3 separate regions of the Homo sapiens genome follow, and regions 2 and 3 are each linked to region 1. A link means that fine-mapping ties the variant in region 1 to the plasma level of a protein whose gene starts in the linked region. Region 1 holds a variant in brackets. A gene starts in each other region. All regions are shown on their reverse strands.

Region 1 (6,840 bases):
TTATCGTACATATAAGAACTCACACTGGGGAAAAACCCTATGAATGTAATGAATGTGGGAAAGCATTCAACCGCATCGCAAATTTCACAGAACATCAGCGAATTCACACAGGAGAAAAACCCTATAAATGTAATGAATGTGGGAAAGCATTCATTAATTATTCATGCCTTACTGTACACCACAGAATGCATACAGGAGAGAAACCTTATAAATGTACTGAATGTGGAAAGGCCTTCATGCGTTCTTCTTCTCTAATTATACATCAGCGTATTCATACTGAAGAGAAACCTTATCTGTGCAATGAATGTGGGGAGTCTTTCAGAATAAAATCACACTTAACTGTACATCAGAGAATTCACACTGGAGAGAAACCATATAAATGTACTGACTGCGAGAGGGCATTCACCAAAATGGTAAATCTCAAGGAGCATCAGAAAATTCATACTGGAGTGAAACCCTATAAATGTTATGACTGTGGAAAGTCCTTTAGGACTAAATCATACCTTATTGTACATCAGAGGACCCATACTGGAGAAAAACCATATAAATGTAATGAATGTGAGAAAGCCTTCACTAATACATCACAGCTTACCGTGCACCAACGAAGGCATACTGGAGAGAAGCCCTATAAATGCAATGAATGTGGAAAGGTTTTCACAAGTAACTCAGGCTTTAATACACATCAAAGAACACATACTGGAGAGAAACCATTTAAATGTAATGACTGTGGGAAAGCATTTAGCCAGATGGTACATGTCACAGAACATCAGAAAATCCATAGTGGAGAGAAGCCCTATAAGTGTGATGTCTGTGGAAAAGCCTTCAGGAGGGGTTCTTACCTTACAGTGCATTGGAGAACACACACTGGAGAAAAACCCTACACCTGTAAGGAATGTGGAAAGGGTTGTATTACTCTATCACAGCTAACCCTACATCAGAGAATTCATACTGGGGAGAGGCCCTATAAATGTGAAGAATGTGGAAAAGCCTTCAGAACTAACTCAGACTTTACTGTACACTTGAGGATGCATACTGGAGAAAAACCCTATAAATGTAATGAATGTGGAAAAGCCTTCAGGAGTAGTTCGAGCCTTACTGTACATCAAAGAATACATCAAAGAGAAACTCAGTTAATATAAAGAACAATAAGTCATTCACCTAGATGTCAACTCCACAAGATGAATCTTATAAACTATATTTTATGAATATAGGAAAATCTTCATTAGGAATTTATCAGAAAGTATACAGAGAAACTATAAGCAATTATGTGGGAAATCATTTAATAATATTAAATCTTAGAAGTTATAAGGAAACTCTCACTAGAGGAAAATAATGAACAAATGAAAGTGTTCATCCAGATTTCATACTTTACTCATTTAACAAATTATCTTTAGTTAATTGCCTATATATGTATTTGCCTATTTTTCTATTCATTTATCTGTCTTTTCTTATAAACCTGGAGGTGCTTTTTATATATTTTTGATATTAATCCTTTGTCATTATGTAGCAGATGTTTTTCTTAATCTAGCATTTGTCTTTATACTTTATAGTAATGCACAACATTTTTATAGGAAAATATTTGTATCATTTCCTTTTTAGATTTTTTATTTTACTCATTTTACTTAAAAGAGATCTCCTTAATCCCTAGGTTATACGTAGTATCCTAAATGTGTTTTTAAGATTTTTATGATTTTATTTTTTACACTTAAGTCTTTAATCCCTCTGGACTGGATGGTTCTTCATAGGAGAGCAACTGTAGGTGATCATTATCCTGTGAAAATATTTTGAACCTAAAAAGCACTCAGGGAAATGCAAATTGAAATGCTCAGTGAGATGAAACTTCCCCTTCATGGATCTGGCAAAAATTAAGAGATCTTTTGCTAGCTATTGGGGTTTGGGAAACCATGTACTATTACTTAAAGGTTGTGTAACATACTTCCACCAGCAGTCCAACAATATATGTTTAAAAATTTAAAACATATATACTCTTAGACCCAGCAGTCTCACTTTTGGAATCTGTCCGTTAGAAATAAAAGCAGCATCAATGCATAAGAATGTAAATAAACATGTTTGTTGAAGTACTGTTTGTAGAGGGGGGCAAAGCCCCAACTGCAAACAAAGTGAATGCCCATTAATAGGGAACTGGTTAGATAAATTGTGACATACCCATATTATGGAACAGTGTGAGAGTAATTTTAAAAACGACTTATATCTATGCTAGCTGATTTCAATGTATTTCCACAATGTATTGATAAATAATTGCTTTATAACAAATGTATATATACAATATATCATTTTTGTTAAAATAATCACACCCATTTATTTTGTGTTTATGTGTGTGTGTGTGGTTAGATGCACATGGAGACAGGTATGGAAGAATATACACCAGGCTGTTAATATTGATTACCTTGAGGGGAGTGAGAAAAGGAGAAGTAGAGATAAGGGAAGGGGAGACTGTAAAAACAGAAAAATGTAAATGCTGCCTTTATGGTATAAAACTGTAAATGTAATATTATGTAATTATGTGAACTTTTGAGAGAGATGAAAGGATGGTCTCCAAAAAATTAATGATGGTTATTTCTGTTTTAGTGGTTCATCAATTTTTTGTTTTTTACTTTCTTTTCTGTGTTTTTAAGTTAATTTTTTCCTTGCAATGAACCTGTAATATTTACATTAAAAGGAAAAATATTTTCGTTGTGCGTTTTATTTATTGGACACCTTCAATGTGCCAGGACCTACCCTCAGTGCTGGATATACAATGAGGGGGAGAGGTGCTCATGCATCTTAGAGCATGGAAATTGGTTCTGATGTTACCTAAATTCCAAAAAAAGTTACTTAGCATCTTATTCCTACCACCCACTGAGTTTCATTTGTAGGAGGTGATAGAAATTCCAGATAGATGAAAAATGTGCCCAAGAATATCTGGAACTTGTGCCCAGGCTGTAGACCAGAAGACCTCAAGCCTCAGAAAGAAGTTCCACTTTCAACATGCCACCAAAGAAAAGGTCACAGTGGCAACAACAGGTGTCTTTATGGAAGAGGCCGTGTAAAGCTTCTGAACTTTGCATGATGAAGTGTAGAGAGAGAAAATAGCCAATAACTCCCAAGTCTATAAATGAGGGCTTGGAAGTTCTGGGAACACTATGAAATACTTCTGCTAGGAGGGGCCTAGAGTAACAATGGGAACCCAGAAGCTGTGTCCCTGATACCAGAAGGCCCTAACAGACCAAAGACCTGACATCCAAAAAGAACAAGGCATGATGAGTTACACTTCAGGGAGGATAAGAGGATCAAATACCCTTTCACGATGCCAGGGTAAATATGTATTTAACATTGGGAAAGACACTGATGTGAATTATCTTCCATCATAAATGAACAATTTGACATTCTGGTTAAAATGGCCATTTTTGATTGAAGTTTAATAGTGAAACATTAACTATTACTAAGAGACCAATCCTCATTGAGGATAGTTAATGTGCCACTTTCTGACTGAAAGGTTTGAGAGTCAGACCTTTAAGAAGCCCTGCTGTCACAGAGTTGACATCGCATGGTGCCAACTTTGTTGGTCCCTCCATTCTGCCTCCGAATCCTCACTACATCTAAACCCTCCCTCCCATTCCTGCCTTAGAGGCAAACGCCTCAAGAAGAGGAATGTGGTCAGCAGGTTCAAATGACAAAAGAACTGAAAAGTATCCATTGGGGAAGGGGTTGGGGATGACCCACACCAACCTGACTAGAGCAGTTTCAGTGGCACGGTGAGCTCCCAGGGCCTGGTTCTTGTGCATGCCGCTATTCCATTATGGGTTTAATTTGCACTT[C/T]CTCAGTGGATAATGCTGTTGAGCCCCTCCTTTCGATATGTGTTGGCTTTTTAAATATCTTCTTTGGGAAGTACCTGTTCAAGACTTTTGCCATTTTTTAGCTGGGAACTGATTTTTGCTCATTTGTAGGATTCTTTATATATTCTGGAGACGGGGTTTTTTTAGATGTTTGTATTACACATATCTCATCTGCAGCTTACCTTTTCACTCTCTAAATGATGTCCTTTGATGAACAGAAGTTCTTAATTTTGATAATAACTTTTCTTTATGATTAGTGCTTTTTTGCCCAGTTTAAGAAATATTTTCCTAACTCAAGGTCATAAAGATATTTTTCTACATTCTCTTCCACATATCTACTATTTTATGTGTATGATCCATCTGAAATTAATATTTATGGTATGGAGTAGAGGTCAAAATATTTTTCATACAAATAAGCAATTTGTTCAACATCATTTATTGAAAAGGCCATCTTCCTCTCTCTCCCTTGTTTTGCAGTTGAACATTTATGATAAATCCGATGATCATGCATGTTAGTGTCTTTTGGACTATGTCTCGTTGTATGCTTTTATTATTGTAACAATACCAAATATTTTAAATGAAAACTGATAGTACAGTTGACCTTTGAACAATTCGGGGGTTAGGAGAACTGACCCCTTACACAATAAAGAATCATTGTATAACTTTTGACCTCAAAAACTTAACTACTAATAACCTACGTTTGACTAGGAGCCTTACCAATAATATAGTCAATTAACACATATTTTGTGTATGTATTAGATACTGTACTCTTACGTAAGCTAGAGAAAAAATATGATTAAGAAAATAAGGGAGAGAAAATATATTTACTATTCATTAGGTAGAAGTGGATCATCATCAAGATCTTTATCCTCATCGTCTTCACGTTGAGCAGGCTAAGGTGGAAGACGACGAGGGGTTGGTCTTGCTGTCTCAAGTGGCAGAGGTAGAAGTAAATCCATGTATAAGTGGTCCCACACAGTTAAAACTTGTGCTCAAGGGTAAACTGTATGTTTTCTAATTTTGTTCTTGTTCAAAATTGTCACTATTTTAGGTCCTTAGCATTTTCATATACATTGTTGAATGATTTTTTTTTTCAATTACCCCATACCAAAAAGCTAGGATTTTGTTGGCATTACATCAGATACATAGATTAATTCTGGAAAAGTGAAGTTATAAACATGAATATTGAGACATTTAATCTATGAGTATTCCAAAACATTTCATTTATATAGATACTTTAAACATTTTGGGATTTGGTTTTGTTGTTGTTTGTTTTTGAGTTGGATCCTTGCTTTGTCACCCAGGTTGGAGTGCAGTGGCACAATCTCGGCTCACTGCAACCTCAGCCTCCCGAGTAGTTGGGATTTACAGGTGCCTGCCACCACACCCGGCTAATTTTTTGTATTTTTTTTTTAGTAGAGATGGGATTTCCCCATGTTGGCTAGGCTGGTCTTGAACTCCTGACTTCAAGTGATCCACCTGAGGCAGGTGGATCCTGAGGAACTAACCTCAAAATTTCAGCAATTCTTATATTTTTGCAACAATTTTTTCAATTATAGAAGTTGCTAACCATTGTGTGGCTGGACTCGGCCGCCACTATGGTGTGAGGCGCGTGTTCGGGCTCTTGCCGTCCCCGCACCCGCACCGCGGCTACTGGCTTGCGGTCCGCCGTTCCACAACCAGCCCTTGGGCCCCCGCCCGCCACGGACATGCCGCGCGTCTACATAGGACGCCTAAGCTACAACGTCCAGGAGAAGGCCATCCAGCGCTTTTTCAGTGGCTATGGCCGCCTCCTCGAAGTAGACCTCAAAAATGGCTACGGCTTCGTGGAGTTCGAGGACTCCCGCGACACCGACGACGCCCTTTACGAGCTGAACAGCGAGGAGCTCTGCGGCGAGCGCGTGATCGTAGAGCACGCCCGGGGCCCGCGTCGCAATCGCGACAGCTACAGCTACGGAAGCCGCCGTGGTGGAGGTGGATACAGCAGTCGGAGACATCTGGCAGAGACAAATACGGACCACCTGTTCGTACAGAATACAGGCTTATTGTAGAAAATCTTTCTAGTCTGTGCAGTTGGAGAGATTTAAAGGATTTTATGCGACAAGCAGGTTAAGTAACCTGTGCGGATGCCCACAAGGAAGGAACAAATGAGGGTGTAATTGAGTTTCGCTCCTACTCTGACATGAAGCGTGCTTTGGACAAACTGGATGGCACAGAAATAAATGGCAGAAATATTAGGCTTATTGAAGATAAGCCACGCACAAGCCATAGGCGATCTTACTCTGGAAGCAGATCCAGGTCTCGATCTAGAAGATGGTCACGAAGTAGGAGTCGCAGGAGCAGCCGCAGTAGATCTGGAAGTGTCTCAAAAAGTCGCTCCCGTTCCAGGTCGCGGAGCAAAGGTCGATCACGTTCTCGATCAAAAGGCAGGAAATCTAGATCAAAGAGCAAATCTAAGCCCAAGTCTGATCGGGGCTCCCATTCACATTCTCGAAGCAGATCTAAGGATGAGTATGAGAAATATCGAAGCAGGTCTCGGTCCGGATCCCCCAAAGAAAATGGAAAGGGTCATACAAAGTCAAAATCCAGATCAAGGAGCCAGTCCCGTTCCAATTCGCCGCTACCTGGTCCACCCTGAAAGGCCCGCTCTGTGTCCCCTCCACCAAAAAGAGCTACTTCAAGATCCTGTTCTAGATCTCGCTCAAAGTCAAGATCAAGGTCCAGGTCGAGTTCCAGGGATTAACTCAGAACTCTCTTGTTGTCTGCACACTATTATGGAACACTTTCCTGCTTAGGCAGTTACTCTTCCATGTTTATACTTGGTCTCTTCTGCAAGAGGAATCTCTTGAAAACAGGGGCACACAGAAATTTGATATGTGGCCAAATTGGATGAAAAAGATGAGGTTTAAGGAAATGGTGGCATGAAGACCCTCTCCCTTCTTTGTAGAATTAAGATAACTATGATTTTATAGCTTTTGAGCTAACATAACTTTTGTAAAGATTA
Region 2 (5,000 bases), not on the chromosome of region 1:
AACTGGAATTCAGACTGCTGGTGGGAATGTAAAATAGTAAAAATCAAGTAGGGAAGTAATTTAAGTTTCCTGAAAACATAAGCATATTCTCATTCAATAATTCCACCCTGGAATAGTCACCCAAAATTTTGTACATGAATGTTTATAGCAGCTTTATTCATACTACATGGATGAATCTCAAAAATATTATGCAAAAGGAAAGAACTTAGAAACAAAAGAGTAAATATTATATGTTTCAATTTGTAGGAAATTCTAGAAAAGGCAAATCAAATCTATAGAAAGCAGATGGAGAGTTACCTGGTTCTGGGAGGTTTGGGGTGACTGGGAAGGCACACAAGGAAACCCATTGAGATGATGGAAATGTTCTAGATCATGACAGTGATTGCTTTTACATCAGTGTGTATGTTTGTCAAAAATCATTGAATCATATACTTATGATGGGTTCATTTCAATGTATATTAATTATAACTCGATAAGCTGATTTTTAAGAAAGAGAACTATAAACAAAATATTCAGAGTGGTAATTACTTCTGGAGAGTACACGAGGAGTGGGTTAGAAAAGGCACACTCAAGTAGATGTAATAGTATCATGTTATGTTCAAGTTCTTTTTTTTTTTTTTTTTTTTTTTTTTTTTTTTTGAGACGGAGTCTCGCTCTGTCACCCAGGCTGGAGTGCAGTGGCGCGATCTCGGCTCACTGCAAGCTCCGCCTCCCGGGTTCACGCCATTCTCCTGCCTCAGCCTCCCGCGCAGCTGGGACTACAGGCGCCCGCCACCACGCCCGGCTAATTTTTTGTGTTTTTTAGTAGAGACGGGGTTTCACTGTGTTAGCCAGGATGGTCTCGATCTCCTGACCTCGTGATCCGCCCGCCTTATGTTCAAGTTCTTAAAACAGTCTGGGGATAGGCTCATGGCTTTTCATTTCATCGTAGTATTTCATAATTTATATTCATGTTACTTTTTTGTATGCATGCATGAACTATCACATTATAAAAATAAAAGTGTGAGAGAGCTTAACAAATAAAATGTTATAGCCTTTATATCTGTGGAGGAGGAAACACATTTTAATCTGAACATCTTGTGAAGGCACTGGAGCAGGACACACAGGAAGAGATGTGATGAGAATCAACCTAAGACCCCAACAACAGATGAATCCATAAAGAAAATGTGGTGTATATATACAACGGAATACCATTCAGCCATACAAAATGAAATCCTGTCATTTGTGACAACATGATGAAGCTGGAGGACATCATGTTAAGTGAACCAAGCCAGACACAGAAAGACAAATACCACATGAACTTACTTATATGTGGAATCTGAAAAAAATAAGAAGTTGATATTATGGAAGTATAGCATAGAATAGCATCTATCAGAGACTGAGGAGGGAATGAGGAGGGAAGAGAGGGAAAGATTGGTCAACAGGTACAAGGTGCCAATTCGATAGGAGGAATAAGGTTTGGTGTTTTATTGCACAGTAGGGTAACTATGGTTACTAGTAAGGTATTATATATTACAAAATAGCTAGGAAAGAGGCTTTTGAATGTTCTCACCACATAGAAATGAAAACTGCACGAGACAATGGATATGCCAACCACCCTGATTTGATCATCACTGTACAACATATATATGTATTATATTGCAATGTCAAACTGTGCCCCATAAATATGTACAATTACAATGTGTCAATTAAAACATTAAAAAAACCAACAGATTAAAAGAAAAAGAGAGAGATGAAACAGCAGAGTGTATGCAAAAACAGCTTTACACCCTGGATTTAAAGGGCTCTACATTCTCATTCAGGAGATTTTTTTGCATTGGTCCTGAAACTTTACACTAAACAAGCTTATCCCCACACAGGCTTTCCTAAGCCAATAAATAAAGCTATGGAATACCTATTCGTTTTCAGCACTTTCGCTGTTAGCCTGGTTACCAACATTGCTCCCTTTTCCCTCTGGTTTTGCGTATCACTGAATAGTTTCTTTTCTCAGTCATACTCATTGAGCTGGATACCTGGACTTAGACATCATTGCCTGACAGCATCTTTCCCCTAATAGGTTACTTTCCACACATTCTAGTTATTCTTAATCCTAGACACTCACGGATTTAAGAAATGTTGAAAATTAAGATAGCTTATTCTCCTCCAATCCCTAATCTAGGCTTCACTTGCCTAGAACTGGTATCCCTAATGTGCTAAAGGTAGCAATGGGAGAGATTATAGGTGCCCTGATTTTGAGGGAAAAGAGGGGCAATTTTACAAATGCCAGAGTTAGTACTAATGGTGAACCCTTCTCAAGTGCCCTGAAGCTAATTTGCATATACTTCTTTTCTGTATTTCATTTTCAAATATCCCCCAGATTGTAATTTGCCGTGATTTTATTTTTCAGTGATTTCATGCTCATTTACTGGTACACTGAAAGTTTGAATATCAAAGCGTATATCTGTATGAATAGGTTGACCCTGTACATAAGTCATCATATGCAGCAAGGGTCAGACACTACACATAACCGGGGTGACAGCCCCATCAGTCCCTGATTTAATGACATGTTTGCATAATATGACTATACTAGAGAAAGTTTGCATAGTGGGACTATATTGCTGAGCAAGAAGAATGTGCCAATTAGAAACAATCCAGGAGACATCCCTATCAAAGGTGAAAAGTATTGTAGATGTATCAAAGATGAATTTCAGCAGGACCATAACCTGATGAGACTCATCAAAGTAGGAAACTGCCTTTAGAAAACTTCCTTTGAAATACCTGAATTCTTGAAAAAGTCCCTCAAATATTGATGTGTACTATCTGCAGCTTGTGGAACTGAATCAAACTATATTTAAAAAGGAGCATCTTTAATTTTCTCAGACTTCATAGAAAAGGAAATGGAGACTGGTCACTAGAGGGTTCTTCTTCCTTCTACTTCTGCTGAAGGGTAACTTCCGATATCAACTTCCTCAAACCTCTGATGAGCTGCTGCTGCTCGACTCTGAGGTGCATTCTTTTTTTGATGAGAGGCATCTCTAGGTACCATCCCTGACCTGGTCCTCATGCTGCCGAGGCTGTTGCTGTTGATCTGTGGTGAGTTGGGCAACTCAGAGCAGGGCATGGGATGCAATCATGCTTGGGCTCTGCTTCCTGAAGGGCTGTAAGGACTTCTTAGGACTAAGGTTCTGTCAGGTAATGCTCAGGGGTGCTCAGATCTCCACTTCCACGGAGGGCTCAGAGTCAGGCAAAAAGTTGTAGATATTTCAAAAAGCCAGAGTTTTCAAGAAAACTATCATTTCAGTTTTTATCTCATAGGAAGTGTTCACTGTCTGTCTTCCTTTCCATCAATAATTGTCTTTGTTCTCAGTGTTTTCAACAGCTGCCAAAAGAAAAATCTGTATAATAAATAGGCCTCTGAATTCCTTGCCCTTCTTACTACCAACGTTATTTCCTTTTATCCCTCTCTGACTCCCCATTCCCACAGTCAAACCTTAGAACTTATCATCACTCCTTTGTTTTCAGCATACATCCCCCACCCCCACTAAGTTGTGTTTCTAGCTCACTTTCTCCTGCACTCTATTTCCAACATGACTTCAATTACCCCAGGGCTACTTTTCCATTATCAGTAACTACACTTCATGTGCTCACTTCTCATGGTGCTCAGCTCAGATTCTGCAGCTCACCACCACAACACTCCCTCGAGCACACCTTCATCTCTCTTCCCCCATAGCACTCTCCTGGTTTACACGCCCTTCTGCATGCTTCACTCCTGGACATAAACAGCTGAATGGGATTTTTTTTTAAATGCACAACCCTGATGACTTATCCCCTTTTAAGTGTAGGACCCCCAAATCTCAGGTAGCCAACAGCAATGCCAGGCAATTATCCTACATGTTCACAGTCCATGTTGCTCCATTATCACTATTGCATACCTTATCCTGTCACCTCATACTTCTCTGTTCACTCTCATTGTGTAATCTTGCTTCATATTTCATTGAGAAAATAAAAGCAGTCAGAAGAAAACTCTCTCATCTTTCTGTTGCTGTTGACCTACTCACCTCTGCATTCACATACACTGCCTTCTCTTCCCCTACCACGAATATATTGCCCCTCATCTTGTTGATGACAAGACTCTCCACTTGTGCATTAGGCCCATGACCCTCTTACTTTCTCAAAAAGTTTGCTCCATCATCAATATGTTTCTTCATTCTAAATTATTCCCATAAGTATACAAACATGCTACAGTATCTTTTATTAAAAACAGCTTTATTGAAATATTATTCACATATAATACAATTCACCATTTAAGTTATGCAATCCAATGGTTTTTTATGACAATCACTGAGTGGTGCAACTATCACCACAATCAATTTCAGAATGTTTTCATCACCCAAGAAAGAACGCCATACCCACTAGCAGGCATCCCCAATTTTTTTTCCAACGCCTCACCTATCCTCACCCCTCTATTTTCTGGCCACATGCAATCATTATCTACTTTCTGTCTCTCTATATTTGTCTATTCTGGACACACACCCCATATCTAACTGTAATTATATATCCCTTGAGCAACATTTCCCTCATTCCTCCTTCCCCACTATTACCCAAGCTTCTTGTAACCATGATTCTGCACCGTCCTTCTATGAGATCAACGTTTTCAGATTCCACATGAGTGAGATAATGCAGTACTTGTCATCCTGTGCCTACCTCATTTCATTTAACATAATATCCTTCAGGCTCACCCATGTTGTTGTAAATGATAGGATTTCATTATTTTTTATGTCTGAATAGTATTCCATCATGTATGTATATTGCATTTTCTTTATCCATTAATTTTTTGATGAACATCTACATTGATGCTGTCTTGGCTATCGTGAATAGTGCTGCAATAAATGTGGGAGTGCAGATATCTCTTTAACACACTGCTTTAATTTCCTCTGGATACATGTCCAGTAGTGGGATGGCTGAACCATATGGTAGTTCCATTTTTTATATTTTAAGAGCCTCCATACTGTCTTCCATAA
Region 3 (6,840 bases), not on the chromosome of region 1:
TTAACATAGAAAAATGACCATTGGATTTATCAGCATAAGGGTCAGTAGCGACATTGCAAGAAACAGCTTCAGGAGACTGTGGGGAAGAAGCCTGTCTGAAGTGGAGAAGGAGATAACGAAATTTGAGTAAGTAGTCAATGAAAAGTTTTGCTGAGAAGAACAAGAAGAGGGACAGGAAAATGGAGTTCCAGTGGGTCATGAGAAGGTCCATAAAGGATTTCCTGGGGTATACTTAAATGCTGGTGGGGATGATCATACAGAAAGAGGTACATTGATGATGCAAGGTAGGAGATATCTGCAGAAGTAAAGTCCTTGCAAAGGCAAGAGGGTATGGAACATGATCATGAATACAGGAAAAGGAGCTGAATTTGTCAGCAGAATGGATACTTCTTTCATTGTTATAGGAGGAAACATACCAAGATTTCAATTCATATTTATTGAATTCCAAATTACAGGCTATTGATAGGAACTCAAATCAGGAAATAAGGCAGATTAAGGTCTTGCACTCATGGAACTTGTATTCCAGTGAGGGAACAAACAACAAACAGGTACATAAATAAGGAAGAAGGTTTTAGATGGTGATAGGTGGTCTGTAGAAAATAGAACACAGTTTTGTATTGGAGAGTACCCTGGAATATGGATACTTCAGACAAGAGTCAGAGAAGCACAACAGAGGGCTGAGCCTTGAATGTCAAGGAGACAGGCAAAGAATAATTTGTAGGAAGAGCATTTCAAAAGAGAGAATACCTAGTGCAATTGTGCTCAAAGAATAAAGAGAAGGCCAGTGTGGCTGGGGCAGAGAGAGTGAGTGGGGTACAGAGAATTTCAGGGAGAGGCAGAAGGCCTCAGACTGGAGAATAAGGGGTATGGGTTTTATTCTAATGTGACGGGAAGGCCTCAGCAGGTTTTCTGCAGTGGAGAACAAAATCTGATTCTAGATGGAGGTAAGTTTGTAAGTTGGTAGGTTTGTAGCCGATTAGAAAATGGGAGCATTCTTGTTTCATGGTTTTGTTTTCTCAGCATAGGATAAAGTTAGGTGGCCACTGAAGGCTTGAGTAAAATCTAGAAGTGTAGGAAATTTGAAACTGTTTATGCAAATAGACAAAAGGAAAAATAGGAAAACACTAAAAAGGAAATTTGCTTCCATTGACTTTGCTTATAGCAGTGTGCCCTATAGATACTTGTTGCAGAATCTTCTAGAGTGATTGTTAAACCTCAGCTTTCCTGTGCTAACTCCAAACCTATGAACCTCTGGAGGGGGAGGTGGAACCAGGAACCTACATTTTATAAAGGTACTTTAGTATTTTATTAAGCACACTCAAGTGCAGGAACTGGCCAAGAGATGATGTGTGGAGAGCATGCAGTAGCAGTAAAAGTTAGCAGTGGAGAGTGGGCAAAGCATGAGCCATGGGAGACAGGTGGGGAAGACCATGAGCAGCGCATACAAGACAGGCAGCTGGAGAAATCAGGGGGTGTGAGCTTCGGTGAGATCCCATTCCAAAGGGCTAGAAAGGCTGAAGACACCAGATTTTCTTCCACTGGAGGCCTTTTAGATTTTTGAACAATGGAGTGAAATAATGAAAATATATATATTTCTTAATTTTTTGTTTTCATAATTGGAAAGTGACCTATAGGTCACTCTTTAACCTTTCCAATCATAAGAACCAAAATCTCTTAAAAGAGATGAGGTTGTTACACAGGTAATTATAATGCTTAGGATGGGAATACTGGTACAAAAATGAGAAATGGACAAACAACAGAAGCACAGTAGCTTGAATGGCTGATAGGTAGACCTGGTATTTCATGGGGCTCCAGTTAAGTGACCTACATGATGCTGCTGCTGTGGCCCTGAATTGGCAGGACTGGTGAAGAATTTGATTTTCAGTTGATAATATCCTCTTTGAAATTTAGAAATAGGTGAGAAGTCAGGGACGTACTCTGCTCTTAGAAAAAGTGTGAATATACATTTGTTCAAAGGGAGTTAATATGCAGAAAAAGAAAAGAGATGAAGATAATGGTCTGGAGAAAGGTTTAAGGGTCAGGAGACAGTAAAATGTCAGGAAAGCAAAAAGTTGTAATAAACTAATATGTGCTGTATTCCAGACACCTCAATAAGCTGGATGTCCATAGAAACAATTGGACACCCAGCTTGTTAGCTTAAATGCTGGCTCCATAAAATCAAGTCTGTACAGGAGGCTTATTACTGATATTTAGTAGTAACGACTAACATCCAACTTTCTTTGCTTAGTTTCATCTGTGCTCAGGGCAGCTCAGTGAGGTGGAAGGCCAGTTAATCACTAGTTTCATTTTACAGATGAAGAAACTGAAGATCAGGGAGCTAAATGACTTGCCAAAAGTCACCCAGTTATTGAGGTCTGCACACAGTAAACGTCTTATAAACTAGGAATGCACGGTACCGTGGAGATAATTAGAAACTTAGACCCATCCTGTAGCCAAGAGACGCTAATCTTAATTATAATCTTTCTTTAAAATCAAGCCAATCTGGAGGAAAAAAAGATATAATAAACGGTGAATGAGACCTTTGCGGACGTCCACACCATTACAGTAGGTTAATAACAAGAAGAAAACAATAGTTTTAATCCATGTCTCAAAAATAACTACGGATGGTTAATGTTTAGGATCTCTACCAATATCACATTAGAGTTCAGAAAATCTGAGACCCATGCTTGGGAACCAGGTCTTACTCTTATTTAGGGAAGGGAGCCGAGGTTCTGCCGCTTTTGCTGGGCAAGAGCGCGGTTCGGGTGTACAGAAACAGCCTCACGTGGCTAGCTGGTGCCTCATGCAGTGGGTAGGTTTCCCGTGGCGAGCGGTAGCGCTGACCGCCGGCCAGAGAGCGATGAGCACCTGCAGAATCCTGGGGGCGGGGAGCCCGGCAGGAGACCGCGAGCACCCGCACGCCGCCAGCCACACCGGGCCGACCAGACAGCGCCCCTCTGTGGCGCAGCCTCCAATTCTGGAGGTCCCAGCTCCCGGAGGGGCCAGTGGGGACAATCAGGACCAGGCGGTTTATTGCAGTGGTCCCTCAAAGCTAGCGGGAGGCGGACACGCGTCGAGCACTGCCCCCACCGTCTCGCTTTTGGCCCCCTGCTTTGCATCGCGGCACAGAAACTTTCCCTGCCCGGGACGCGTCCCCACCTCCGTGCTCCCCCTCCCAGCTCACCGAGGACCCCCGGTGCGACGAGAGCCAAGAAAACCCCGAGCAGGCCCGCGGCGCCCATGCCACGGCCGAAGCCCCCGCGGCGGGATGCGTTCCGAGACCCGCGAGCGTCCGGCAGCTCTGGGAGGGCAAGGCTGGAGCAGCAAGCAGCTGTGAGCCAGGAGAGGCGGGCCCTTAAATAGTGTCCGGCACACGTGCTAGTTCTGAGCGCACACCTGCAGGCGGCCTGGGGGCTGACGCGGCGCCGGTGAGGGTGGGACAAGCGGGAGGGACGGCCCGGCACGAGGTGGGCGGGGAGCTCTGAGCCACTCTTTGGCTCAGACTCACCCCTCGTTGCGGTGGCTTCCCCACTTTTTTGACCACGCAACCCACTACACTCACTTGTTTCTCTTACTAGAACTTAAACAAAACTTTCACAAGTTAGTACTCACCCTTAGTAATCTACAATGTTCGTCCTCTGTGCCATGCTGTGTTATGCTAGACTAGGCTAGGCTATCCTATTCTTATTAGAAATCCACCAAACTCATTTCAAAACCTATTAGTGGATTCATCTCCCAGTTTGAAAAAGCAGTGTAAGTTTACTTAGGGAATTTAGGAACAGCAGCCACTTCTGCTCTGTTCTTTATTTTGAAGTAATCTCTACAGAAAAGTTTCAAGAGTACTGCAGAGAATTCCCATATACTTGTCACCCAGATTCTCTGCATGTTAACATTTTGCTGTATTTTCTTTACCATTCTCTATTCTTTCTCTATAGACATATATGTACATATATGTGATTATATAATTATAATTATATAATTATTACTTTGGAACCATCTAGCATTTATTCCTATTCTAAATGGTTCACTAAGGACTTTCTGTTCCATAACTAGAGTGCAATGATCAAAAATAAGAACTTAACATTGACACAAGACTATAAGCTACCATCTGTATTTAAATTTTGACAATCATCTCAATAACCTGTGTTATGGTAAAAACAATAACAACAATAGAAACCAACCTTTGTTTTTCCTGGTCCAGAATCATTTCAGGATCATGTATTGTGTTTGATCATTATGCCTTCCCCCCACCCCCAGTTCTTTATTCTGGAAAAATGTCCTCAGCATTTTTGGTATTGCATGACCTTTACATTTTTGACGAATACACCACAATTATTTTTGGAGAATGACTTTTAAGTCCGTTATCTATTATAATAACAAATTACCCTGAAGGTAGTGGTGTAAAGCAAGAATAAACATTTATGATCTCACAGTTTCTGTGGGTCGGTCAGGTGGTTCTGGCTTGGGATCGCTCAGGAGATTGCAGTTAAGACACCAGCTGGAGGTGCAGTCATCTGAAGGGTTAACTGGGATAGGCGAATCCACATCTAAGATGGCTCACTTACCAGCCTTTGGCTGGAAGCTTCATTCTTCACCACGTGGATTTTGCCATAGGGCTCGCTGCTTGTGTGTTGAGTGTCCTCGTGACATGCCAGCTAGCGTCTCTGAGAACAAGAAAGAAGAAGCCATAATGTCCTTTGTGACCTGTCCTCAGAAATCACAATATGTTAACTCCAGAATATCCAATTGATTGTACAGATCAGCCCTTTTCAGTGTAGGAGGGCAGTATACGTGGATGGTAATGTCAGGAGACAGGATCACACCCCACAATTTGGATTTGTCTATCATTTCTTCATGATAGATTCAGGTTATTGAATCTAATTATTTGACAGGAATACCAGAAAGGATGTCTTATCCTTACGGGGAGGCATATGTTGTCTATTTGTCCTATTACTGGTGGTGGTAACTTTGATCACTTAGTTAAGATGGTGCCTGCCATGTTTCTTAGTGTAGACTCAGTATTTTTCCCTTTGTAATTAATAAGTATTTTATAGGGAGATACTTTAAAACTATGTAAATTCCTCATTTTTTCATCAAATTTTTACCCACAAATTTTAGCGTCTATTGATGATCCTTTCTTGAATCAATTTTTACTATGATGGTTGTCAAAGGGTGTTTTTTCCTAATTTAATAATTACTTCTATATTCATCTGTTGGCATTTTACTGTAAATAAAAGTTTTCCCTTCTCTATTTATTTATTCATTTATCTATATCAGCATAAACTATATCAATATGAATTTTATTTATTTACTCAATGGGTCATAATTCATGGCTACCATTATTTATTTTGATGCTTAAATTCTCCCTGATCGGGCCAGTGGGAGCCCTCAAAATAGTTCCTATGTCATTTTGACTTGTTCTTATTGTTCTTTGAGCACTTCCTTACTTTCTGGCACACACACAAAAAAAAATGCTCCAGACTCACCTCTAGACCTGACACTGGAATTTGCTGTTTCTCCAAGGAATGCTGGTTCTTTCTGGCAGAGAATGGCATTTAGATGCCAGAATTGGATGCTAAGTGTGTTCATTTTTATTGGAGTATCATTGTTTCCGCACCCTCTCAGCAGACAGAGCAAGGATATGTATTATATATATATATGTATATCCATTCCCATATCTATATTTATATATGTCATGAATTCACAGTGATTCTTCCAATTTCAGTCCGTTAGCATAGAGTTCATTCTGTCCTTCCCTCTTTCTGCATGTGTAACTCCCTTCTTCAACAGTGAGACACCTAGATCCACAATATATTTACTTATTTGCTTAATCCTAGAATACACAGAAAGAAGTTTAAAATTGCTATTTCTATACTATGATGGAAATCAAATCTACTCGTTTTTAAAGTTTTATTTTGTTTATAGCCCGAAAATATAAAAACAGCATTGTTGTGTTCCAAAGTTACTCAGATTATTCCCCCTCTTCAGTGTGATTGTTATTCATTCAAAATACTGTTAATTTGTTTCTCTTTGTATTCTATTTTAGTTTCCCCTCAATCTTTTTGATTTTTTTTTGCTTAAATAAAACATTAACGTAGTCCCAAATGTCAGATTGATATAAAAAGACACAATAAAAGGGAAATGTCACTTCTCTCCATCACCTCTATCCTCTCCACCATAGGTACTCAATTTCAGTAGTTTCTGGTTTGTCCTTAGTTTTGCTCAAATGAGCTGCTACACATTTGTCTTCTTAGTTCTCCTTTTTTATTACATTTTAAAAGCATGCTATAGGTATTCTTTTGCACATTTCTTTTTTAACTTAACAAATATGCTGGAATCCACTATTTCCTACAAATTCAAATATTCCTCATTCATTTTTACAGTTGCATGCAATACTTCACTGTGTGGATATGCCATAGTTTATTCAACCATCTCCCTATGTATGGACAGTTTGGTTGTTTTTAATGCTCTAAAGAGTAACTTTGTGAATATTTATTTTTCTGCTGTTAGAAGCATGTCTTCAGTTCAAATTCCTAGAAGTGGGATTGCTGGGTCAAATGGTAAACACATATGTAGGTTTGTTAGATATTGCCAAATTTCCTTAATAAGAGTTGTACCACATATATTCCTACAAAACTGTGTGAGAGCACCTCATTAATCTAATGTGCTGTCATCATGGTTTTAAATTTTAGTCAGTCTAATAAATGAGACATTTTATCTCAGTGTAGCTTTAATTTGCATTCCCTATGAGTAACGCTGAACATTTATAAAATATATTTTTATCATGTATATTTGCCTTTTCCTCTCTCAATGTTTGAGACTTATTTATATATATTAGGA

Which allele goes with the higher level. Positions count from the first base shown, and alleles are read on the strand shown. Strength reflects both the effect of a copy and how common the allele is.
In carriers of allele C in region 1, the plasma level of the protein whose gene starts at base 2,959 in region 2 tends to be lower than with T alone (weak association).
For the plasma level of the protein whose gene starts at base 3,333 in region 3, allele C in region 1 goes with a lower level than allele T (weak association).

Evidence for each region. PIP is the posterior inclusion probability: the model's chance that the variant is causal. The UK Biobank Pharma Proteomics Project read protein levels with antibody pairs (Olink). The fine-mapping took linkage between variants from a reference panel, not from the people measured, so its PIPs are less certain.
Region 2: it holds the start of FCRL1, and the variant in region 1 is fine-mapped to the plasma level of the FCRL1 protein (UK Biobank, PIP above 0.99).
Region 3: CR2 starts here. The variant in region 1 is fine-mapped to the plasma level of the CR2 protein (UK Biobank, PIP above 0.99).

What each region holds. Positions count from the first base shown.
Region 1 is chr17:16,616,587-16,623,426 of GRCh38, reverse strand. ZNF624 (zinc finger protein 624) reads left to right here. Exons shown (of 6, transcript NM_020787.4): 6 at 1-2,693. The coding sequence ends at 1,139. It also overlaps the pseudogene SRSF6P2. Among named protein-coding and RNA genes, the nearest start is that of ZNF624, 34 kb to the left of the region's middle. The variant C/T (reference allele first, on the strand shown) is at 3,819.
Region 2 is chr1:157,818,079-157,823,078 of GRCh38, reverse strand. FCRL1 (Fc receptor like 1) reads left to right here and starts at 2,959. Exons shown (of 11, transcript NM_052938.5): 1 at 2,959-3,072. The coding sequence starts at 3,042.
Region 3 is chr1:207,450,821-207,457,660 of GRCh38, reverse strand. It overlaps CR2 (complement C3d receptor 2), which reads right to left and starts at 3,333. Exons shown (of 20, transcript NM_001006658.3): 1 at 3,185-3,333. The coding sequence starts at 3,242. RefSeq lists silencers at 2,775-2,884, 3,265-3,494.